Regions from separate parts of the Homo sapiens genome. Here all the other regions are linked to region 1. Evidence: fine-mapped expression QTL. A gene starts in region 1. Each other region holds a variant in brackets. All regions are shown on one strand. Distances are from middle to middle. Region 1 holds the start of CPAMD8 (C3 and PZP like alpha-2-macroglobulin domain containing 8). Region 2 overlaps CPAMD8 (C3 and PZP like alpha-2-macroglobulin domain containing 8). Region 3 overlaps CPAMD8 (C3 and PZP like alpha-2-macroglobulin domain containing 8).

Region 1 (8,178 bases):
GACATCAGCCCCATTTAGAAAGTCAGAAAGGAAACCCCAGAGAAGTCAAGTCACCAGCCGCAACAGTGACAGACCAGGATTCTAACTCAGGCGGTCAGACTCCAAAACCTGATAAAAAGAAGCAAAGGGCTTCTTTGCAACATTCATTTTAAGAACAAACCCTGAAAACAAACCATAGGGCCTCAAACAAAAAGAGCTCTGAAAACAATGGAATCAAAGCAGGCCTCTCTTTCCTAAAATCTTCTGATTGACTATGAAGTCACCTCTGGAAGGGAGGCATTACCCCCAGTTTCCCCATGGGAAGTTGATGCTTCAGAAGAATAGGAACATGCACCAGATCACACAGCCAGGCAGAAGAGGGCACTGAGGTGCCCTTAGGGGACCTGACCTGAGGGCCCAGGTCCTCCCCACCTGAGCTCCTGTCTCCCAGTATCTGCAGCCTTCCATGGAAAATTACAAAGGCCCTGTAACCTCATGAAATGCTTACAGTGTCCCCACAATCACCAAGAGCATTATAGCAAAGGCACCACAATTGCAACCATGTAGAATGATGGAAATCAGAAGAAAAGAGGGTAAAGGGGGAAACTGGACCATGCAATGAGATTAGGAGACATTTTCATTTCAATATTTTCTTTTTTTATTTTTATTTATTTATTTATTTATTTTTAATTGAGACTGAGTCTTGCTCTGTTGCCCAGGCTGGAGTGCAGTGGTGTGATCTCAGCTCACTGTACCCTCCACCTCCCAGGTTCAAGGGATTCTTCTGCCTCAGCCTCCAGAGTAGCTGGGACTACAGGCGTGCACCACCACACCCAGCTAATTTTTGTATTTTTGGTAGAGACTGGGTTCCACCATGTTGGCCAGGCTGGTCTTGACCTCCTGACCTCAAGTGATCTGCGCACCTTGGCCTCCCAAAGTGCTGGGATTACAGGCCCACTGCACCTGGCCTCAATAGTGTCTCTAGAACAACCCAACATCCACATGCAAAAAGATGAATTGAGAACATTACCTCACACCATGCAATTAGATTAACTCAAAGTTAATCTTAGTAACAGATCTAAATTGAAGAAGTAAAACTTGTAGAAACACTAGAAGAAAACAAAGGAGAAAGTCATTGCATGCTTAGATTAGGCAAAGATTTCTTGAGTAAGATACCAAAAATAAGATCCATAAAATAACTCACTGATAAACCAAACTTCATGAAAACATCATTACCAATTTTGCATCTCAAAAGACGCAGTGGGTTTGTGTTGTTTCATGCACACGAACAATGGGTTTGGGTTGTTTACTGCAGCCCTGGCCACAGTGTGCACTGACCCTGTGATCATAGTGTGCTACATCTGCCTTGAATAATTACCAGAGTTCAGTCCCCTGGGATCACACATGTGCTGTCCAACTCTAGGACCAACTGGAGTTTGCAAGACCCTGGGTATGTGCTGTGTATTACATAACTCCAGCACTGACCAGGACATGCAATTACCCTGTCCAGGTGTCCTGTCCAGCTCCAGCACTGGAATGTGGCATCCTTTAAAAGGGGAATACTCTTTCTGTCTGGCTCCCAGCTGATCCCTAGAGTTTAGACGGGCCTCACATATAGTACATGGTGAGTGTAGAAGAGAGAGTAAGGAATACGTGTTCATTTTGCTTGGTCACCTTTGAAACTCCTGACAATACGGGTTCAAGTCTTCATCCAACTGCCCAGAGAAACTGACATCACCAAATTAAGTTTCCCTGCCATTCAGAAGTTGCAGCTGTTTCCAGCTGTTGGGATGCTTGCCAGCCATTCACTGTCACACCTGACCCACCCCTAGCATCTGGGCCAACACTGCTTCTCATCCTGCTGGTCTCAGAAGGTCCCAGATTGGGGAAAGGGATGTCTGGGTCAGTGTAGACAGAATTGCTCTTACAACTGCAAACTGTGCTGCTTTCTGGGATCAGAGATTCCTCACACAAAAATCTCTCAGGTGACAGAAGTGGGCATCCAGAGCTATTCCTAAGACGAGATCCTTTGGGCTGGGTGAACCATGCCCCTGGCTTAGAGGCCAGCTAATCTGGAATCCCAGGTCGGTCATTTGGGGACATCTCTTCCCCAGTGTGTCTCTCAGCACAGGGATTCCATGTCACTTAACAGATGGTAAGATCACAGGGTGACTTTAGTCAGAGGAAAACGCCCTGGAGAACTGTTTAAAACTCTCTAACGGGCCAGGCACGGTGACTCACGCCTCTAATCCCAGCACTTTGGGAGGCGGAGGTGGGTGGATCACCTGAGGTCAGGAGTTCCAGAACAGCCTGGCTAACATGGAGAAACCCCATCTCTATTAAAAATACAAAAAATTAGCCGGGTGTGGTGGCACACGCCTGTAATCCCAGCTACTCAGGAGGCTGAGGCAGGAGAGTCATTTGAACCTGGGAGGCGGAGGTTGCAGTAAGCCAAGATCGTGCCATTGCACTCCAGCCTGGGCAACAAGAGTAAAACTCCATCTCAAAACAAAAACAAAAACAAACCCCAAAAACAACAAACAACAAACAAAAACCTCTGTATAAGGCAGGGTCTCTCATTGGAGCCAAGGTCTGTCATGTGGGGCCGCGTCATTCCTTGCAGTGGAAGCTGACCTGCACATCGAAAGCTGTTTACCAGCATTCCTGGCCTGCACCCACTTAATGCCAACACCAAATGCCTCTCCCTATTTGTGACAACCAAAAATACCTCCAGACATTTCCCAGCGGCCTCAGGGAGACAAAAATCCCCCCCAGGGCTGAGAACCACTATTCTAAGGGATGCCAGCTTTGAAAGAAGCATTAGGATGAAAATTTGTAGGGTTCCGATTTCACGAAGCCTAGGAGAGGGAAGTCTGGATGCTCAGAGCGCAGTAGACTGTCTTGCTTTTAAAACTGTGACCAGCAAGGACCAACTACTCACTGCAAATAACGACACCCACCTAGTCTCACTGCTTACCAGTTTTCTGGAAACTCCTAAACAAGGGCTGCTTGAACAAGCCGCCTTCTAAACGCCCAGCTGGACTAAAAGGCTGGTCTTGTGCAGACCAGGGCAGCCCCCCTGAACCCGCAGCCCTGCAGAGCTCACCCGAACTTGCCAGGTTTAGAAATATTCTCTGTGAAGCCAACTTAGCAGTACTCCCCAGCAGTTAGTTAATTCACCTTCTCCCCGCTGTCAACCCACCAGAAGCCTGCAAGCAAACCTCTAGAAAAATGTAGAAGCAAAACAAACACTTCCTCCTCCCTCACCACGCCCACCCACGGGAAAGTGCCCCTTCGCACTCTCCTCCCACTTCTCAGCCAAGACGCTCCTCTTACCTTCATACCTTGGACAACTGGAAATCGCCACCCATGATGACAGCCCGGGTCACACGAAGGGGGCGAGGTGGGGCGGGGGGAGCTGACCTCAGCACCTTTAGCTTTTGGGAGTCCCTGTACCTCCACAGAGCCACTTCGGAAACTTTAGGGCGCCCCCTCCTCAAGACGATTCGGGAACAAGAGGCCAGGTCCAGCCCAGCGCGGAGGCTGTGTGGCCTTGGGCAGGTCGCTGCAACACTCTGAGCCAGTACCCGCGACCCCCACCCCAGAAGGCGACCGACCTCCTCTGTCGCCGGAGGATACTCACGGGGCCTGAGGCTGCGCGGCGCGCACGCCGTCCCGCGCCGACAGCAGCAGGAGCAGGAGCGGGAGCAACGGCCAGAGCAGGGCGCCGCTCATTTTTCGGCTCCTGGGGGGCGCCGCGCCTGGGGAGGGGGCCGGGCCAGGGCTGGGCCAGGGCCAGGGTCCGAGCGCGGCCGTCCTCGCGCCGCCGCCGGGGGCCCTTTGTTCGCAGCCCCCGCGCAGTGCGCCCGGCGCCATGCGCCCCGCTCCGCGCCCGGCCAAGCTGGGGCAGCCCCGGGCCAGCCCCCTCCCCGGACCCGCCTCGTCTCCGGGACCGCCCCGCTCGCCCCGCTCGCCCCGCTCCTGGGCGCACCCTCCCGGGACGCCTGCTCCGCCCATCTCCGGACCCCGACCCGCCCCGATCCCTTCCGGGGATCGTCCCCTCACTTACTCACCGGACCCACCCGGGCCCTGCCCGATTCCTTCCGAACCCGCCTCCTCACCCCCTACCCGGATTCGCCCCCGGATGCCCCCCTCCCCACCAGCCCCGCCTCGGACCCGACCCCCCACCGCCCCCACTCTCCCTCTCCTCTCCACCCAGCGTCCACTCGGAACCTGTCCCTTCCCTGGCCTCTCCCTCCCTCCCTCCCCAGCCAGCCCCTTATGGCCCCCTCCCCGGGCCCGCCCCTCACCAGGGGCCCCTGGGTCTGGACGCCGCCTGCAACCCCGATCCCACAGGCGCCGCCGTGCCCTAAGCCCTGGCCTGTATCTAGTGCCCAGTGCAGTGCGTACAGCCCAAGGAGCAGAGGACCCTTTGGGGAAACAGTCTAGCCAGGGGTCGAACCTCCCAGACTCACATCTGCCCCAGGTCCCTATCTGTGCTCTCTGCTCCCCTCTCCCCCACCCCCACTGTCCACAAATCCCTTGGGCCCGTCCCCTCTCTCGCTGGGCCTCAGAGTCCCCCTTTCCCCTTCATACAGCAGGGGTGGATGGGCACCCCCTTTCTCTCCAAGAGCAGGGTGTCCCCTCCTGCCCCTCCCCGTGTGGCCACCTCAGTGATGGTCCTGCTGTCCTAGGTCCCACTGGCAGGCGGCACATCCTATACCATGTCCAAGTCCTGGACCCCCTCCTTCCAGTGTGGAACCCCCTTCCCCCAGCTACCAACTGCCCTTCTTCTAAAATTCCAGTGCTGACCACACCCCCTCCTGCCCGGAATCCTCGGGGCTCCCTGTTTATTTTACATTTTATTTTTATGTTTTGAGACCAGAGTTTTGCTCTGTTGCCCAGGCAGGAATTTAGTGGTGCAGTCACAGCTCACTGCAGCTTCAGACTCCTGGAGAGTAGCTGGGACTACAGGTGCAAGCCCGCACCCAGCTAATTTTTATATATTTTTTTTTAGAAACGGAGTCGCACTGTGTTGCCCAGGCTGGTCTTGAGCACTGGGCTCAAATGATCCTCCCTCCTCAGCCTCCCAAAGTGCTGGGATTACAGGTGTGAGCCACCACATCCAGCCAGGGCTTCCCGTTTATTGAGACCAAATCTAAACTCTGGCTTTGATGGCAGAGACCTCAGCCTAGTTCCTCCAACACCCTGTTCTTACTCCACTGCCTGCTTCTGCCTAATCTCTGTCTTCCTCTACCTGCCTCCTTTGCCAGTCCAACTCCTGATCCTTCCAGGAAACTCAAGGGAAGCTTCTCTTGCCCCCTCCCTGCCCCTAGGGATGTGGGTCCTCTGGGGGCTTCTCAGCCCTGTCAACAGCCTTTGGACCCAACACTGATCACCCAGGCAGCACCAAGCCCTGGGCTGGGCAATGAGGACCCTGGGACATACAGGACCTGCTGCCACTGAGCACACAACCCAGAGGGGACGTAACTGATGATGGTGTGTTGGTGTGTGTGTGTGCGTGCACGCGCGCAGGGGCCGGAGTAGATTGAGTAGCCGTCTCTCCTGCCTGGAGAAGAGGAGGAGCTGCCTGCCTCCAAGCTCAGACCAGGCCAACCCCAAACAGGCTGCTAAACTCACATGGAGGTGCAAAAATCTAGCACCAAGAAGCAGCATCTGATCTCACCCTCATCATCGAAGTTTGCCCCATGCCACCCCTCCGGGCCCCTCCAGGCCAACTCTGACTCCTACCTAAGCCAACCTCCACTCCTCAGCCTCCAGGCCAGCCTTTGAGCCCTCCGCCTCCCCCTTGACCATTGGGCTCTGGCCACATTTGCTCCTGAGATACATCAGACCCCCACCCACCACCACCATCTTGGGCCAAGGTGCCAGCTGTCCCCTCTGCCTGGGATGCACTTCCCCGTGGCATCACAAGACCGGCTGCTCTCCTCCACCTTCAGGGTTAGCCCGGAGGTGCCTTCCCTGCCTGCCTGGTTTGTAAGGTCTAAAATGTCAGTGCTGCCTTGGCATGGTTGAGCCACACAGGACCACGATGTCCTGACCGACCGTTCAGCTACTCTTGCCAAATATGCCCCCTGCCTGGCAAGAGAAGCTGCTCTCCACCTGGCTGTCTCACCAAGCAACCAGACCAGCTGCACCCCACCCATCAGCCACAGACTTCACTTCCCTAGCTGCTGAGAAGTTATTGAAACAAGCCATGCCCAGTCGTGGTGGCTCATGCCTGTAATCCCAGTACTTTGGGAGGCCGAGGCAGGTGGATCACCTGAGGCCAGGAGTTCAAGACCAGCCTGGCCAACATGGTGAAACCTCATCTCTACTAAAAATACAAAAATTAGCCAGGTGTGGTGGTGCACACCTGTAATCCCAGCTACTCGGGAGGCTGAGGCAGGTGAATCACTTGAACCCAGGAGGTGGAGTTTGCAGTGAGCCGAGATTGCGCCACTGCACTCCAGCCTGGGTGACAGAGTGAGACTCCGTCTCAAAAAAAAAAAAAAAAAAAAAGAAAGAAAGAAACCAATCACATCCTCCCAGGAGAACCAGGGGCTGCCTCACCCTCTTATTACTACAAAGCCTGCTTCCCACAGCCCCTGCTTGTTCATTGTGCTCCCGAGTGCAACCCCTGTGTGGCCTCACACAGTGTACAGGGTCCTCCTCCCGTCATTGTGTGAGAATAGGTGAGCACTAAACTGTAGATCTCACCCACCCAATGTCACATGTTGTATGTTTGGCCATCTCATACTCTTTTTTTTTTTTTTTTGAGACGGAGTCTTGCTCTGTCGCCCAGGCTGGAGTGCAGTGGTGCGATCTTGGCTCGCTGCAAGCTCCGCATCCCGAGTTAACACTTTTCTCCTGCCTCAGCCTCCCAAGTAGCTGGGACTACAGGCACCCGCCACCACGCCCGGATAATTTTTTGTATTTTTAGTAGAGACGGGGCTTCACCATGTTAGCCAGGATAGTCTTGATCTCCTGACCTCGTGATCCGCCCTCCTGGGCCTCCCAAAGTGCTGGGATTACAGGAGTGAGCCACCGCGCCCGGCCTATTTTTTTTTTTTTTAACGGAGTCTCACTCTGTCACACAGGCTGGAGTGCAATGGCGTGATCTCAGCTCACTGCAACCTATGCCTCCCGGGTTCAAGCGATTCTCCTGCCTCAGCCTCCCAAGTAGCTGGGACTATAGGCGCCTGCCACCATGCCTGGCTAATTTTTGTATTTTTAGTAGAGACAGGGTTTCACCATGTTGCCCAGGCTGTTCTCGAACTCCTGACCTCATGTGATCCACCTGCCTTAGCCTCCCAAAGTCCTGGGATTACAGGCATGAGCCACTGTGCCGGGCCCATCTCATACTATTTAGAGCAGCAGTCCCCAACCTTTTTGGCACAAGGGACAGGTTTCATGGAAGACATTTTTTCCATGGACAAGGGGCAAGGTGATGGGAGGGACAGTGATGGTTTTGGGATGATCAAGTGCGTGACATTTATTGTGCACTTTATTTCTATTATTGTTACATTGTAATATAATGAAATAATGATACAACTCACCATCGCGTAGAATCAGTGGAAGCCCTGAGCTGTTGTTTTCCTGCAGCCAGAGATCCTACCTGGGGGTGATGGGAGACAGTGGCAGATTATCAGGCATTAGATTCTCATAAGGAGCATGCAACATAGATCCCTCGCATGCACAGTTTGTAATAGGGTTTGGGCTTCTCTGAGAATCTAATGCTGCCGCTGATCTGACAGGAGGTGGAGCTCGGGCGATAATGTGAGCGATGGGGAGAGGCTGTAAATACAGATGAAGCTTTGCTTACTCATCCAATATCAGACCAGTGTCAGTCTGTGGCCCAGGGGTTGGGGACCCTTGATTTAGATCATGGGTGAATAGGAGCCAATGAGGACACTAGCATGGCCCGGTCATCCAGTTTGACTGCATGGTACACAAAACACAGAGCATGGTCTTATTATTCCATACACATCTGCTTCCTGTCTGTCTTCTTTGGGATGTGAGCCCCCCGTTTGCTGCTGGCCGCAGCCCCTGGCTCAAAGTGGGCACACCTCACACAGATTACTGCCTCATCAGCACACGGGAGAAGGCTCGCTGCTTAGAAGAGTCAGTTGATACTATTCCATGAATTATACAAGCCTGAGTTAACAAAGCCATGACTAAAAACTAAATTATACCGAT
Region 2 (8,178 bases), 72 kb before region 1:
ATTGAATAACGTGCCCAAGATCAGCAGCTCTATGAGTATAAACCGGGATCCCAAGCACCCTCTCTGTTCACCACCAGGATTTCCTGGTACTTTGTGGGGAGCCTGTGAATTAAGACCCATAGGCCAAACCGGATCCACCACCTGTCTTTTGGGCCCACAAGCTAAAGATGGTTTTCATCTTTTTCAAATGGTTAGGAGGAAAAAAAATTAAAAGAAGAATGATTATTTTGTGACAGGTGAAAATTCTATGGAGTTCGGATTTCAGTGTCTAGAAATCAAGTTTTATTGGAACACAGCCATATCTATTCAGGTAAGAGATCATCTAGGTTGCTTTTATGCTATAAGGGCTGAGTTGAGTCGCTGCCACAGGGATTGTGTGGCTGGCAAAGACAGAAATATTTCCTATCTGGCCCTTTACAGAGAAAGCTCCATGCTATCATATATGATACCAGTCCAGGCACGCCCTTGCTAGGCCAGGGAGTCAGGGACAACAGCTCCACTTACACCAAGTCCCTCTCACTCACACACATGCGTCCCCACCTCCTCCTCACCCGGCTTTGACGGTTGGTGAATCAGAGGCTGATCTCATCCCACTCCTGCCTCCCTGACAGCACAGATGACGCATCCTCCCCAAAGCCCCCCAGGCTGAGCCCACCCATCCCTGCCTCCTCAACATCATAGAGGCTCTCGCCCTCCTAAATCCCCCAAGCTGACACTGTCCCACCCCTGCCTACCTTATAGCACCAATGCAGTCCCAACTCCCCACTGAATGGAGGAAGGCTATGTATTTGGGGGGCTGAGTACCTCAGCGCAGGTGCCCATGTAGTTGTAGACACTGAGCGGGATCTTGACCTGCTCCCCACGGATGATGAGAGCGGGGAGCATGAAGTCCACGAAGAAGGGCTTGAAGGTCTTCAGCAGGGAGGGCTCGGCGATGCCTAAGCCCTGAGAGGTGGACAGGGCCACGGCCTCACCCACCCAGCTGGTGATGGAGTCCGGGACCTTCACACTGAGTGTCCCCTCACCAGATGGGTCACTGCGGAGAGACAGACAGCCATGATGGGGGGCCCTTCTCCAGGGCCATGCCTCAGGGGGGCCAGTGGGCATGGATGACCCAGGCTGCATGGCTCAGAGAGGCACCCTAGGAGCTTAGAAACAAGCATTGAAGGCATCACAAAAGCGGCAACAGGAAAAAAACTGTCCCTCAGCCCTGACTCTAATAGAAAACATGGGCTGGGCGCAGTGGCTCATGCCTGTAATACCAGCACTCTGAGAGGCCGAGGTGGGAGACTGCCCGAGCCCAGGAGTTCCGGACCACCCTAGGCAAGATGATGAGACCGTGTTGCTACAAAAAATTTAAAAATTAGGTGGGTATAGTGACACATGCCTGTAGGCCCAGCTACTCAGGAGGCTGAAGTGGGGGATTCACTTGAGCCCAGGTGGTCGAGGGTGCAGTGAGCTGTGATCCCGCCACTGCAGTCCAGCCTCAGCAACAGAGTGAGATCCCTGTCACACACACACAAAAATATTATTGAAAGAAACTAAAAAAGACAAAAAAAGACATAAATAAATGAAAACATTTCCCATGTTCATGGATCGGAAAGACTTGTTAAAATGTCAAAACTACCCAAAGTGATCTATAGATTCAATGGAACCCCTATCATAAACCCCAATGACTTTTTATTTTATTTTATTTTGCAGAAATAGAAAACTCCACCTTGAGATTTTACATGGATCTCAAGGGATCCTGGTGGCCAAACAAAGAAACCAGAAGAATAAAGCTGGAGAGCTCACACTTCAAAACTTACCACAAAGCTACCATATTCAAATCAATGTGTTACTGGCATAAAGACAGACATACAGACCAATGGAATCAAATAGAGAGCCCAGGAATAAACCTTGACGACACAGATAAATGATTTTTGACAAGGGCATCAAGATACTTTAGGGAAAAGACAATCTTTTTAACAAATACTGCTAGAAAAAGCAAACATCCATATGCAAAAGAATGAATTTGGACCTTACCTAACACCATATACAAAAGTTAACTCAAAATGAATCCATGACTTGAAAGTAAAAACTAAAACTATAAAACTCTTAGAAGAAAACAGGGCAAAAGCTTCATGACATTGGGTTTGACAATGATTTCATGGATATGAAAACAAAGGTACAAGCAAAAAAAAAAAAAAAAGAGTAGACAAGTTGGACTTTATGAAAACTGCAAAATTTTGAGCATCAAAAGACACTATTCAAGGGCTGGCATGGTAGCTTACTCCTGTAATCCCAGCACTTTGGGAGGCCAAGGAAGGAGGATCACTTGAGCCCAGGAGTTTGAGACCAGCCTGAGCAACACAGCAAGACCCTATCTTTACAAAAAATTAAAAAATTTAGCCAGGAGTGGTGGTGTGTACCTGTAGACCCAGCTACTTGGGAGGCTGAGGTTGGGGGATCACTTGAACACCTGGGTGACAGAGTGAGACCTTGTCTCAAAAAAAAAAAAAAAAAAGGCACTATCAACAGAGTAAAAAGTCAACCCAGTGGGAGAAAATATTTGCAAGTCATATATCTGATAAGGAAATAATATCCAGAATATATAGAGAACTCCTGAAACTCAATAACAAAAACAGCAACATGATTCAAAAATGGGCAAATTACTTGAATAGACATTTCACCAAAGAAGATAGACAAATGACTGATAAATACATGAAAGATGCTCAACATCACTAATCATTAGGGAAATGCAAATAAAAACCACAATGAGATGCCACTTCATGTACTTAATTAGGATATTAAAAAAGAAAAGGCAAGAAAAAAGGCTGGGCATGGTGGCTCACACCTATAATCCCAGCACTTTGGGAGGCCGAGGTGGGTGGATCACTTGAGGTCAGGAGTCTGGCCATTGTGAATAACGCTGTGAACATGGGTATACAAATATCCCTTTGAGACCCTGCTTCCCATTCTTTTGGGTATACACCCAGAAGTAGTGGGTGAAACCCCGTCTCTACTAAAAATACGAAAATTAGCCAGGTGTGGTGGTGCGTGTCTGTAGTTCCAGCTATTTGGGAGGCTGAGGCAGGAGAATTGTGTGAACCTGGGAGGCGGAGGGTGCAGTGAGCTGAGATTGCACCACTGCACTCCTGCCTGGGTGACAGAGCGAGACTCTATCTCAAAAAAAAAAAAAAAGAAAAGAAAGAAAAAGAGAACAGCAAGTGTTTCTGAGGATGTGGTAAGATTGGAACCCTGGTACACTGTTAGTAGAAATGTAAAACGCTGCAGCTGCTGTGGAAATTAGTCTGGAGGTTCCTTAAAAAATTAAACATAAAATTACCACATGATTCAGCAATTCTACTTCTGGGTATACACCCAAAAGAATGGGAAGCAGGGTCTCAAAGGGATATTTGTATACCCCTGTTCACAGCATTATTCACAATAGCCAAAAGGTGGAAGCAACTCAAGGGTCCATCGACAGAAAATAAATGGATAAACAAAATGAGGGAATCCATGCAATAGGATATTATTCAACCTTAAAAGGGAAGGAGGCTGGGTACAGTGGCTCACGCCTGTAATCCCAGCACTTTGGGAGGCCGAGGGGGGTGGATCACGAGGTCAGGAAATCGAGATCATCCTGGTCAACATGGTGAAACCCCATCTCTACTAAAATACAAAAAATTAGCTAGGCATTGGCTGGGCACGGTGGCTCATGCCTGCAATCCCAGCACTTTGGGAGGCCGAGGCGGGCGGATCACGAGGTCAGGAGATCGATACCATCCTGGGTAACACGGTGAAACCCCGTCTCTACTAAAAATACAAAAAATTAGCAGGGCATGGTGGTGGGCGGCTGTGGTCCCAGCTACTCAGGAGGCTGAGGCAGGAGAATGGCGTGAACCCAGGAGGCAGAGTTTGCAGTGAGCCGAGATCGCACCACTGCACTCCAGCCTGGGCAACAGAGCAAGATGCTGTCTCACACACAAACACACAAAAATAGCTGGGCATGGTGGCGCATGCCTATAGTCCCAGCTATTTGGAAGGTTAAGGCAGAGGAATCACTTGAACCCTGGAGGCAGAGGTTGCAGTGAGCCGAGATTG[T/C]GCCACTGCACTCCAGCCTGGTGACAGAGCAAGACTCCATCTCAAGAAAAAAAAAAAAAAGAGAGAAGGAAATTCTGACATGGATTCTCCAACAAAGATGAACCTTGGGGACATGTTGAAATAAGCCAGTCACAAAACGACAAATACTACATGATTCCACTTACAGGCGGTCCCTAGAATAGTCAAACTCAGAGACAGAAAGGGTTGTTACCAAAGGCTGGGGGAAGGGAAGAGAGGGGAGTGAGTGTTTAATGGGACAGAGTGTCAGTTTTGTAAGATGAAAGGAGTCACAGAAATGGGTGATGGTGATGTTGGCACAATAACGTGAGTGTCCTTAATACCACTGAACTATACACTTAAAAATGGTTAAGATCGTAAATTTTATGTGGAGTATTTCACCATAATTTTTTAAACCAATTCATTTTTGAATCATTTTCCCTTTTTGAGACAGGGTCTCACTCTGTAGCCCAGGCTGGAGTGCAGTGGTGTAATTTCGTGTCACTGCAGCCTCAACCTCCTGGGCTCAAGCGATCCTCCCACTTCAGCTTCCCAAGTAGCTAGGACCACAAGCATGTGCCACCACACCTGGCTAATTTAAAAATTTTTTTTAGAGATGGGGCCTTGCTATGTTGCCCAGGCTGGTCTTGAACTCCTGGGCTCAAGCAATCCTCCTGCCTCAGCCTCTCAAAGTGCTGGGATTACAGGCATAAGCCACCACACCCCGCCTTTAAACGGGTGTGGTTTAAAAGAGAGTTGACCAGTCCTCTTTTGGGTCCAGCAGGAACCTCCTCCCTGGTCTCAGATCTGTCCCCTCTGATTCATCCTTGCTCCAGCCAACAAGAGAGGAGAGAGAACATCCCGAATCCTAAATCCCAAATCCCTGGCTCTCCACACCTGCACCCCTAACCCCACCCCCACAGCCCACATGGTCTCATACTCCCTGCATCCTCCTCAGCTCCTTCCATCTCATTTCAACCATGTGGAAATCCACCAGCCTCTCCTACTTTGCAGCACTTGCTCATGCTGGTCCTTCCTGGACACCCTTCCCTTTCTTGCTTATTCATATGGTGGGACTCAGCTTGGGCCCTACATTGAGGACCCTCTCTGGCTTTTCCAAAGGATTCCACCATCTTTCTCTGCCTCCCAAGCTCCATGCCCAGCCTTCCAGAAGACTAACCCCACTGCACCATGATGGCTCTTTAGGCACCTGTCTACTCTAGCTACAATGAAAATGTTATGAGTGCTGGGACTCTGTCTACCTTATTCAAGGGACCATCCTTAACATCAAAAACATCCGGGCCAGGAGCAGTAGCTCACACCTGTAATTCTAACACGTTGAGAGGCCAAGACAGGAAGATCACTTGAGGCCAGGAGTTTCAGACCAGCCTGGGCAACATACAGAGACCCCATCTCTATGAAATATTTTTTTTTTTTTGAGACGGAGTCTTGCTCTGTCACCCAGGCTGGAGAGCAGTGGCGCCATCTTGGCTCACTGCAACCTCCGTCTCCCAGGTTCATGCCACTCTCTTACCTCAGCCTCCCGAGTAGCTGGGACTACAGGCGCCCGCCACCATGCCCAGCTATTTTTTGCGTTTTTAGTAGAGACAGGGTTTCACCATGTTAGAGAGGGTGGTCTCGATCTCCTGATCTCGTGATCCACCTGCCTCAGCCTCCCAAAGTGCTGGGATTACAGGCATGAGCTACCATGCCCAGCCCTAATAAAAGTTAATTGAAAAAATTTTTTAACAATAAAAAAAGCTCACCAGACATCCAGAAAGTAGATACATTTGAATGATGATGGACAGATAGCCTGTCTTACAGCTGGGCCCCCAGAACAAAACACAGTGAACTGGATGTGTTCTGATCAGCAGTCAAACCTTCCCACGATGAGGACATACACATCCCCCAAAGCAGTCTGAGGGGCCCCCAGCTGCGTGCCTGGCTCTGCCAAGCACTTGCCACAGCACCTTGTGCCTGGAGGAAGGGCACAGCTCCAGCAGTCAGCCCACCTGCTGGCCCGGGCTGGACCAAGAGTCAGTTTTCATGCCAAACTGGTTTGCCGGGGCACGCCAGTGCCACTTTTTACTAGTGTCATTGGTGCTCTAACGCTGAGCATTGCAAGAAAAAAAGTCAATTGCATCCAGCAGAAAAGGGTTGCCTACACTCCTGCTTCAAAGAGAACTAAACGGGGAAAAATGCAGAAAGGAAATGTGTTGAGAAAGGCATCCTGTTTTTTGAGCAAGAGCTGTAGTCCCCTGAGGAGCAAGGAGTGGGGGTAGGTGGAGTCAAGTTCATGTTCCAGGGAACTGTAATCATTTTAATGAGCTCGTTATACAAACAGAGCAGATAGAGTAACCCCAAGAGGGAGTTATAAGAGGCACAAAGCCCTTGCATTTCATATTTCACAGGCAAACGTCCAAATGTGCAGCGGGACTCAAGGCTGGCTTCATGGCTTGAAGTTTTGTGTGTTAGAAAAAGATGCACAGTGTCTTGCTCAGATGTTGGTATCAGGCCTGCCCATCTCACCGGAGGCTCTCTGGACCCGCATGAGTGTCTTTCACTCAACCGGCAAAGTCAGCGCAGAAAAGAAATCTTAATGTACCTGATGTTGAGACAATGCCAAATCCATGTTTCGGGGAAGAAAGTCCTTTTTCTCTTCTCTGTTCTATGAAAAGAAAAAAAGAAACGATTAAGGTTTCATGAACATAACAAATCTTATGTGAACCTAGCAGCTTTGCATTCTATTTGATCAGATATAACGCGTTAATTTCTTTTACCTGGAAGGGTTAACATTGTACTTCACTGGGATATAACATGTTAATTCTCTTACCTGGCAGGGTTAACAGTCTACTTGATTAGGACATAACTTGTTTTTTTAAAAACTTTATTTTAGGTTCAGAAGTACATGTGCAGGTCTGTTACATAGGTAAATGTGTGTCATGGGGGTTTGTTGTACAGATTATTTCATCACCCAGATACTAAGCCTATGCCCAATAGTTATTATTTCTGATCCTCTCTGTCTTCCCATCCCCCATCCTCAAGTAGACCTGTGTCTGTTCCCCCTTTTGTTTCCATGTGTTCTCATCATTTAGCTTCCACTTATAAGTGAGAACATGCAGTATTTGGTTTTCTGTTCCTGCATTAGTTTGCTAAGGATAATGGGCTCCAGCTCCATCCATGTTTCCACAAAAGACATGATTTTGTTCTTTTTTATGGCTGCATAGTATTCCATGGTATTTCTGTACCACATTTTATTTATCCAATCTGTCATTGATGAGCATTTAGGTTGATTCCAGGTCTTTGCTATTGTAAATAGTGCTGCAGTGAACATTTGTGTGCATGGGTCTTTATGGTAGAATGATTTATATTCCTTTGAGTATATACTCAGTAATGGGATTGCTGGCTCAAATGGTAGTACTGTTTTTAGTTCTTTGAGCAATCACCACACTGCTTTCCACAATGGTTGAACTAATTTACACTCCCATCAACTATGCATAGCATCCCCTTTTCTCCACTACCTCACCAACATCTGTTATTTTTTTACTTTTTTTTTCTTTTTTTTTTTTGAGATGGAGTTTCCTTCTTGTCACCCAGGCTGGAGTGCAATGGCACAATCTCAGCTCACTGCAACATCTGCCTCCCAGGTTCAAACGATTCTCCAGCCTCAGCCTCCCGAGTAGCTAGGATTACAGGCGCCTGCCACTACACCCAGCTAATTTTGTATTTTTAGTAGAGACGCAGTTTCACCATGTTGGTCAGGCTGGTCTCAAAATCCTGACCTCAGGTGATCCACCTGCCTCGGCCTCCCAAAGTTCTGGAATTACAGGCATGAGCCACCACACTCAGCTTATTTGTTGACTCTTTAATAATGGCCATTCTGACTGGCATGAGATGGCATCTCATTGTGGTTTTGATTTGCATTTCCCTTTTTTTTTTTTTTTGAGATGGAGTCTTGCTCTGTCACCCAGGCTGGAGTGCAGTGGTGCAATCTCTGCTCACTGCAACCTCCACCTCCCAGGTTCAAGTGATTCTCATGCCTCAGCCTCCTGAATTACACCTGGAATTGCAGGTGTGCCACCACGCCCGGCTAAT
Region 3 (8,178 bases), 120 kb before region 1:
GAGGGAATGGGGCACAGGAGGACAAGCCCAAGATCACCTCGTGCTCCCCAAAACCTCACCTGCATCAGGCAGCAGCCGTCCCCCTTGGCACTCACAAACAGCCCCGTGGGGAGGCTGGGGATCTGGAGACAGAAGTCACCGTGAGGCCCTGCTGACCCCTCCTCCAACAACCCCCAAACCCTCATCCCAGGAACACGCACCGCTGCTGTCTGCAGAACCTTCTGGTTGGTCCTGTGCAGCTCGAAGGTTTCCTGGTAGTCCAGGTTGGTGGAGGCCAGGGAGACAGTGAGGTTGATGCCTCCAGCATAGGACAAGATGGCATATTCAGCCAAGGCCTGCAGAGCCACGCAGGTGTCCTGGGGATGGAGGAGGAGACGGCCATCAACCCTGAGACTGAGTTGGCCAGTGGTCCCCTGAACCCCGTCTTGGAAGCCTAGCCTAAAACAGGCACCAACGGGGCTGGAATAGAGACTGGACCCAGTGCAGACACCCATGGCACTGGGGGCCTCAGGACAGCCAGGTTGGTGTGTCCCCAGAGGCAGAGGCTGGGCTCCCATGGGGGATCCAGGGGCATCTGTCCCTCACCCCCAACCCCTGCCCTCTTTGGGGCTCCATAAGGTGAGAAGGGGCCAGACTGCCTGGCCACCTCAGAGCTCAAAACAAGGACTGCAGGGACCCCACCCACCCAGCCCTGAGCCCCTCCCTCTGGCCCTGCCCGGCTCGCCTGAGTGGAGGAGAAGCCCCCAAGTGCATTTCGCTGCTGGGACAGCCACTTCACCACAGGCAGGGCGGCAGCCACGTCACCCAGCAGAGTGTAGGTCAGAAGGGCGTAGGCTGTCATTTCCACCTCGGCCGAGACCACTGCAATGGAAGAGGCCCACTGGGGACTTTTGACACAGGGACATGGACCCAGTGCATGGAGGTATGGCCAAGGCAGGCACCCGGGAGCTGGGGTGGCCAGTACCTGACTGAGAGACCCTGTCACTGAAGCTCAAGAATGTGCCCTTGTCCACGTCCCAGGAATTTGACAGGCTCCAGTGGGTGACCCCATCTGCAAGGAAAGGAGTGGTCAAGAGCTATAACCCACCCAGTGTGTAGCCTGGCATCCCATGGAGCGCATCCAAGCATGGGGTCTAAAGAAAAGGTATTGTGGGACCCCAGTGGGAGAAGAGTATCAGGGGAAGACAGCTGGAACAGGAAGGGCCTTGGGGCTCCATCTCAGATCTGCAAACCTATGGCAGCCCCAGCCCTTCCTGTGCCCCTGGCAGACATCGTGAATCAATGGCTACCCAACCTTACCCCTGGCAGACATCACTAATCAAAGGCCACCTTCCCCTTCCTGGACACAGACATCACTAGTCAATAGCCTCCCTCCTGACCAGGTACTGATCCAGCCCCTGATGTTCCTACTTAGTGCCCAAGCAGCCACACTCGACTTGCAAAGGCTCAAAGATTCTGGCCAGGCACAGTGGCTCACGCCTGTAATCCGAGCACTTTGGGAGGCTGAGGTGAGTGGCTCATTTGAGGTCAGGAGTTCAAGACCAGCCTGGCCAACATGGTGAAATCCCATCTCTACTAAAAATACAAAAATTAGCTGTGTGTGGTGGTGCACACCTGTAATCCTAGCTACTCAGGAGGCTGAGGCAGGAGAATTGCTTGAACCCAGAAGGCAGAGGTTGCAGTGAGCCAATACCGAGCCACTGCACTCCACACTCCAGCCTGGGTGACAGAGTGAGACTGTCTCAATAAATAAATAAATACATAAATAAAAATAATAATAATAATTTAAAAAGAATGGCAAGGCACGGTGGCTCATGCCTGTAATCCCAGCACTTTGGGAGGCTGAGGCAGGCGGATCACCTGAGGTCAGGAGTTCGAGACCAGCCTGACTAACATGGAGAAACTCATCTCTACTAAAAAATACAAAAAATTAGCTGGGCATGGTGGTGCATGCCTGTAATCCTGGCTACTTGGGAGGCTGAGTTAGGAGATCACGCCATTGCACTCCAGCCTGGGCAACAAGAGCGAAACTCCGTTTCAAAAAAAAAAAAAAAAAAAGGAAGAAAAGAAAAAAAAAAAAAAAAAGAAAAAGGCTCCAAGGATTCTGAGCTCGCATGAGGTGTAAAGACTCTCAAATCCAGAGAGAAACCAGCCCACCACCACCACCTCCCACTCCATCCCTGGATCCTCTTTAAACTTTTTTCTTTCGGAAGCAATGAAAACAATTCTTCAGGTGGCATCTTAATGCTTAAGCAGAGAAACCTGTCTGAGCCCCAGTGCAGCTGCTGGGGGTAGGGGTGGAGTGGGGAGGTCTGGGTGAAGTAGGAGGAGACTAAGTTTGGGGGCATTCTGAGAAAGTCAAAGCTCAGGGATTGGAGTCCCAGTGGGGTGATGATTTTGTAGGTGGGGAGACTGACAGCTCAAAAAAGCTTTCCAGGGCTCACTCAGCAAGTGGAGGGAAGGGTGGAAGCGAGACCCAACCCTCCCCTGTCTCCCAGCACCCCTGTCCTGGGATGATTTCCAGGAAGCCTGGCCGGAGGCGGGGGATGCGTTCTCTGCTGGGGATCCCTCTCTGAGAACTCCCCTTCCAGAGGGGTTGGCATCCCAGATTTCACAGGCAAGGAAAGTGATGCTTGGGGCTGGTGTGACTTGGACAAGCCACTTCCTCAAATAAAGTCACTAGCAGATGCGATAATGAATGAATACTATAATCAACAAAGCAATTGACAAGCAAAAGGCATCTCGTCAGTTTCCCTTTCTCCTTCCTTCCTTCCTTTCTTCCTCTCCCTCCCTCCCTCCCTCTCTCTCTTCTCTCCCTCCTTCCTTCCTTCTTTCCCTTTCTTTCTTTCTTTCTTTCTTTCTTTCTTTCTTTCTTTCTTTCTTTCTTTCTTTCTTTCTTTCTTTCTTTCCTTCCTTCCTTCCTTCCTTCCTTCCTTCTTTTCTTTCTCTTTCTTTCTAATGGCATTATCTCAGCTCACTGCAACCTCTGCCTCCTGGGTTCAAGTGATTCTTGTGCCTCAGCCTCCCGAGTAGCTGGGGTTATAGGCACCTGCCACCACACCCAGCTAATTTTTGTATTTTTAGGAGAGACGGGGTTTCACCATATTGGCCCGGCTGGTCTCGAACTCCTGGCCTCAAGTGATCTGCCCAAAGTGCTGGAATTACAGGCGTGAGCCACCGCGCCTGGTCGACTCATCAGTTTTTTGTTTTGTTTTGTTTTGTTTTTGAGACGGAGTCTTGCTCTGTTACCCAGGCTGGAGTGCAATGGCGCGATCTCTGCTCACTGCAATCTCCGCCTCCCGGGTTCAAGCGATTCTCCTGCCTCAGCCTCCTGAGTAGCTGGGACTACATGACTCGTCAGTTGTGATAAATATGTTCATGAGTTGTTTACCAGACTCCACAGTGGGCTTCCCGACGCTGTGGCCTCTGGGGAGGGCCAGGGACACCTACCTCGCATGATGGCCAGGCTACGGAGCTTGCGCAGTGCCTCAGGGGCTGCCGGGCTGCGGAGCAGGGTCAGCGCGTAGGTAGTCAGGGCACAGCTATAAGGGTCCATGGCCAGGGGCGCAGCAGACTCCAGGAAGTGCCTCGCTTTGTCAGTGGAGCCTCTCTCCTCCTGCAGGGTGGGGTGGGAAGGTGAAACCTGGGAGGCTGCTCTGCCCCCATCCCACCCACCCACTGGCTTCTGAGGCATCCCCGAGGAGAGCTCTGGGTGACTCCTAGCCCCTTGCTTTGCATCCTTCTGTGGCTCTCACTGCCTGCAGACCCAATTTTCAAACCCCATCTCCTTTCTTTTCTTTCTTGCCTTTTTTTTTTTTTTTTTTTTTTGGTAATAGGCTGGGCGCAATGTAATCCCAGCACTTTGGGAGGCCAAGGTGGGTGGATCACCTGAGGTCAGGAGTTTGAGACCACCCTGGCCAACATGGTGAAACCCCATCTCTA[C/T]TAAAAATACAAAAATTAGCTGGGCATGGTGGCACATGCCTTTAATCCCAGCTACTTGGGAGGCTGAGGTAGGAGAACTGCTTGAACCAGGGAGTTGGAGGTTGCAGTGAGCCAATATCGCGCCACTGCACTCCAGCCTGGCAACAGAGTGAGGCTCCGTCTCAAAAAAAAAAAAAAAAATACAGACAGCATCTTACTCTGTTGCCCAGGCTGGAGTGCAGTGGCACGATCATAGCTCACTGAAACCTTCACTTCCTGGGCTTAAGCGATCCTCCCGCCTTGACCTCCCCAGTAACTGGGACTACAGGTGCACACCAGCACGCCCAGCTAACATTTTATTTTTTGTAGAGATGGAGTCTCACTATGTTGCCCAGGCTGGTCACACATTCTTGGGCTCAAGCGAGCCTCCCACCTTGGCTTCCCAAAGAGCTGGGATTACAGGAGTGAGCCACTGCCCCTGGCTCCCATTACCATTCTTGTAAGTTGGCACTCCTTTTTCCAAATGAGGTCTGGCCAGGATGCCCAAGTGCATGGCAAATGAGCACAGTGATACTCTAGGGGAAGCAGGCAGAGTCCTGGCCACCCTGTCCCACCCAGCCCCATGGCCAGGTCTTTGTTAAGACAGCTAGCTAAGGCCAGGTACAGTGGCTCATGCCTGTAATCCCAGCACTTTGGGAGGCCGAGGTGGGCAGATCACTTGAGGTCAGGAGTTCAAGACCAGCCTGGCCAACATGGTGAAATTCCATCTCTATTAAAAATACAAAAATTAGCCAGGCGTGGTGGTGGGCGCCTATAATCCAAGCTATTCAGAAGGCTGAGGCAGGCACAAGAATCCCTTGAACCCGAGAGGCAGAGGTTGCAGTGAGCCGAGATTGCACCACCGCACTCCAGCCTGGGCAACAGAGTGAGACCTCATCTTAAAAAAAAAAAAAATAATAGAAATAAAAAGCTGGCTCCTAAGACCTCCACAGCCCAGGCCCTCCCCAGCCTCCAGGCCTGGTCACCTCCTTAGAGAAGCCCACCAGCCCTGCTCATGCCCTCCCTAGAATGTGATCTGTTGGAAGACAGGGACCAAGTCCAGAATCTACTGATGGTTTTGGTTCAGAGAAGCTGCCCAATAATATTATGTGGAAGAAATGAGTGACCAGAAGCATTAACAAATTTAGCAATGGAACCAGAGTCTTCTGGTGGCCCAATAGAGGTATGGAGTTGAGCTAACTCTGCTTTCGGAACTGTCCTGGTCATAGAAAGAATGTTTCCAAAGCTTTCCATCCTTAGACCAGGACAAACGTGGGAACTGTCCCTAAGGTGTGACATTGAGATGCCCTTTGGGAGGCATGTGCCAGGGATGAACCCGGCTGACTAGCCAGACCCTAGGACTGGCCCTCACAAGTCCATTGCCTGGGGGTGGGGGAAGGTTGGACATCCCCATCCCAGGGGCAGGAACAGTGACATGGGAGTTACCCCAGGTCACGCGGGCCAGGACGGGTCTCAAGGACGCTGCGGAGACCACACCAAGCAGGGATGGACCCAGCCCGGCCCCAGCTGTGCAGATCCTCCCGTTTACAGACAAGCGGATGCAACGGAACTCCAAGGGGTCAAGGTCATTTGCTGGTTGCCCCCCAGCTCATCTGATTCCAGCACAGGTGTAGCGGGTTGAACGGTGGCCCACCAAAAAGATATATTCCCTGGGACCTGTAAATGCTGACTTATTTAGGAAATGGGTCTTTGCAGATGTAATTAAGAGTCTTGAGATGAGATCACCTTGGATTAAGGTGGCCTCAAATCCAATGACAAATATCTTTAAAAAATTTTTTTTGGCTGGGCACGGTGGCTCACGCCTGTAATCCCAGCACTTTGTGAGGCCGAGGCAGGTGGATCATGAGATCAGGAGATCGAGACCATCCTGGCTAACATGGTGAAACCCCATCTCTACTAAAAATACAAAAAATTAGCTGGGCGTGGTGGCGAGCGCCTGTAGATCCAGCTACTCAGGAGGCTGAGGTGGAAGAATGGCATGAACCTGGGAGGCGGAGCTTGCAATGAGCCGAGATCGCGCCACTGTACTCCAGCCTGGGCAACAGAGCGAGACTCCATCTCAAAAAGGGAAAACAAACAAACAAACAAACCCATCTCTACTAAAAATACAAAAATAGCCAGGCATGGTGGCCCATGCCTGTAATCCCAGCTACTTGGGAGGCTGAGGCAGGAGAATCCTTGAACCCGGGAGGCAGAGGTTGCAGTGAACTGAGATCGCTCCATTGCACTCCAGCCTAGGCAATAAGAGCGAAACTTCGTCTCAAAAAAAAAAAATTTGTATTAGAGACAGAGGTTTCACTGTTACTCAGTGTTACTCAGGCTGGAGTGTAGTGGCTATTCATAGGCACAATCCCACTGCTGATCGGCACGGGAGTTTTTGTTTGTTTTTAAAACAATCTCATACTGTCACCCAGGCTGGAGTGCAGTGGTGCAATCTTAACTCACTGCAACCTCCACCTTCCAGGTTCAAGCGATTCTCCTGCCTCAGCCTCCCGAGTAGCTGGGATTACAGGCACGTGCCATGGTGCCTGGCTGATTTTTGTACTTTTAGTAGAGATAAGCTTTTGCCATATTGGCCAGGCTGGTCTCGGACTCCTGGACCCATGTGATCCACCTGCCTCAGCCTCCCAAAGTGCTGAGATTATAGGCATGAGCCACTGTGCTTGGCGTCCAATGACAAGAACCTTTAACTTTTTTTTTTTTTGAGATGGAGTTTCACTCTTGTTGCCCATGCTGGAGTGCAATGGCGTGATCTCAGCTCACCGCAATCTCCGCCTCCCAGGTTCAAGCGATTCTTCTGCCTCAGCCTCCCGAGTAGCTGGGATTACAGGCATGCGCCATCACACCCAGCTAATTTTTGTATTTTCAGTAGAGACGGGGATTCTCCATGTTGGTCAGGCTGGTCTCGAACTCCCAACCTCAGGTGATCTGCCCGCCTCAGCCTCCCAAAGAGCTGGGATTACAGGCAGGAGCCACTGGGCCCGCCTTTTTTTTTTTTTTTTAAATTAGTGACAGGTCTCACTATGTTGCCCAGGCTGGAGTGCAGTGGCTATTCATACGCACGATCTCCCTACTGATCAGCACAGGAGTTTTGACCTGCTCCATTTCTGACCTGGGCCAGTTCATCCCTCTTTGGACAACTTGGTCATCCTGCTCTCAAGAGGTCACCATATTGATGCTGAACTTAGTGCAGACACTTGATTGGTGCAGTGCACTACAGCCCAGAACTCCTGGGTCAAGCAATCCTCCTGCCTCAGCCTCCCGAGTAGCTGGGACTACAGGAATGCCCTGCTGCACATGGCAACAAGTGTTGTTTAAGAGACGAGAAGGGGAGAAGACAGAGGAGAAGGTCACACGCAGACAAAGGCAGGGGCTAGAGTGATGCAGCCACAAGCCAAAGAATGCCTGGGGTCCCTGGAAGCTGGAGGCAGCAAAGAAAGCTCTTCCCTTAGAGCCTGCAGAGGGAGCAAGGGCCTGCCAATGCCTTGATTTTGCACTTCTGGTCTCCAAAGCAATGAGAATGTATTTCTGTTGTTTTAAGCCACCCAGTTTGTGGCAATTTGTTATGGCAGCCACAGGAAATGAAGACAGCAGGTTTTGCCTCCTTTGGGGAACGATCTAAGACAGGGGTCCCCAACCTCCGGGTCACAGACTGGTACCGGTTGGTGGCCTGTTAGGAAGGGGCTGCACAGCAGGAGGTGAGTGACAGGTGAGCCAGCAAAGCTTCATCTGTATTTACAGCCACTCCCTATCGCTTGTATTACCACCTGAGCTCCACCTCCCATCGGACCATCAGCAGCATTAGATTCTCGTGGGAGCATGAACCCTATTGTGAACTGTGAGCATGTGAGGCATTTGCTGGCAGACTCCTTTTTTTTTTGTTCTTTTTTTTTTTTTGAGACAGAGTCTGGCTTGGTTGCCCAGGCTGGAGTGCAGTGGCACGAGCTTGGCTCACTGCAACCTCTGCCTCCCAGGTTCAAGCGATTCTCCTGCCTCAGCCTCCCAAGTAGCTGGGACTTCAGGCATGCGCCACCACACAAGCTAATTTTTGTATTTTTATTTTTATTTTATTTTATTTTTTGAGACAGAGTCTGGCACTCTTGCCCGGGCTGGAGTGCAGTGGCACCATCTCGGCTCACGGCAAGCTCTGCCTCCCAGGTTCACGCCATTCTCCTGCCTCAGCCTCCCGAGTAGCTG

The links. PIP is the estimated chance that this variant, and not a neighbour inherited with it, causes the effect.
Region 2: its variant is the best candidate, but not a certain one, in a credible set for the expression of CPAMD8 in whole blood (TOPMed, PIP 0.57).
Region 3: its variant is the best candidate, but not a certain one, in a credible set for the expression of CPAMD8 in fibroblasts (GTEx, PIP 0.85).

What each region holds. Positions count from the first base shown.
Region 1 is chr19:17,022,929-17,031,106 of GRCh38, forward strand. CPAMD8 (C3 and PZP like alpha-2-macroglobulin domain containing 8) reads right to left here and starts at 3,882. Exons shown (of 42, transcript NM_015692.5): 1 at 3,623-3,882. The coding sequence starts at 3,714. RefSeq lists an enhancer at 4,054-4,962.
Region 2 is chr19:16,951,165-16,959,342 of GRCh38, forward strand. It overlaps CPAMD8 (C3 and PZP like alpha-2-macroglobulin domain containing 8), which reads right to left. Exons shown (of 42, transcript NM_015692.5): 19 at 6,689-6,751; 20 at 805-1,036. Among named protein-coding and RNA genes, the nearest start is that of F2RL3, 66 kb to the left of the region's middle. RefSeq lists an enhancer at 547-1,110. The variant T/C (reference allele first, on the strand shown) is at 4,087.
Region 3 is chr19:16,903,502-16,911,679 of GRCh38, forward strand. CPAMD8 (C3 and PZP like alpha-2-macroglobulin domain containing 8) reads right to left here. Exons shown (of 42, transcript NM_015692.5): 30 at 3,451-3,616; 31 at 965-1,051; 32 at 725-861; 33 at 201-356; 34 at 60-122. It also overlaps the pseudogene RN7SL835P and the pseudogene RN7SL823P. Among named protein-coding and RNA genes, the nearest start is that of F2RL3, 19 kb to the left of the region's middle. The variant C/T (reference allele first, on the strand shown) is at 3,943.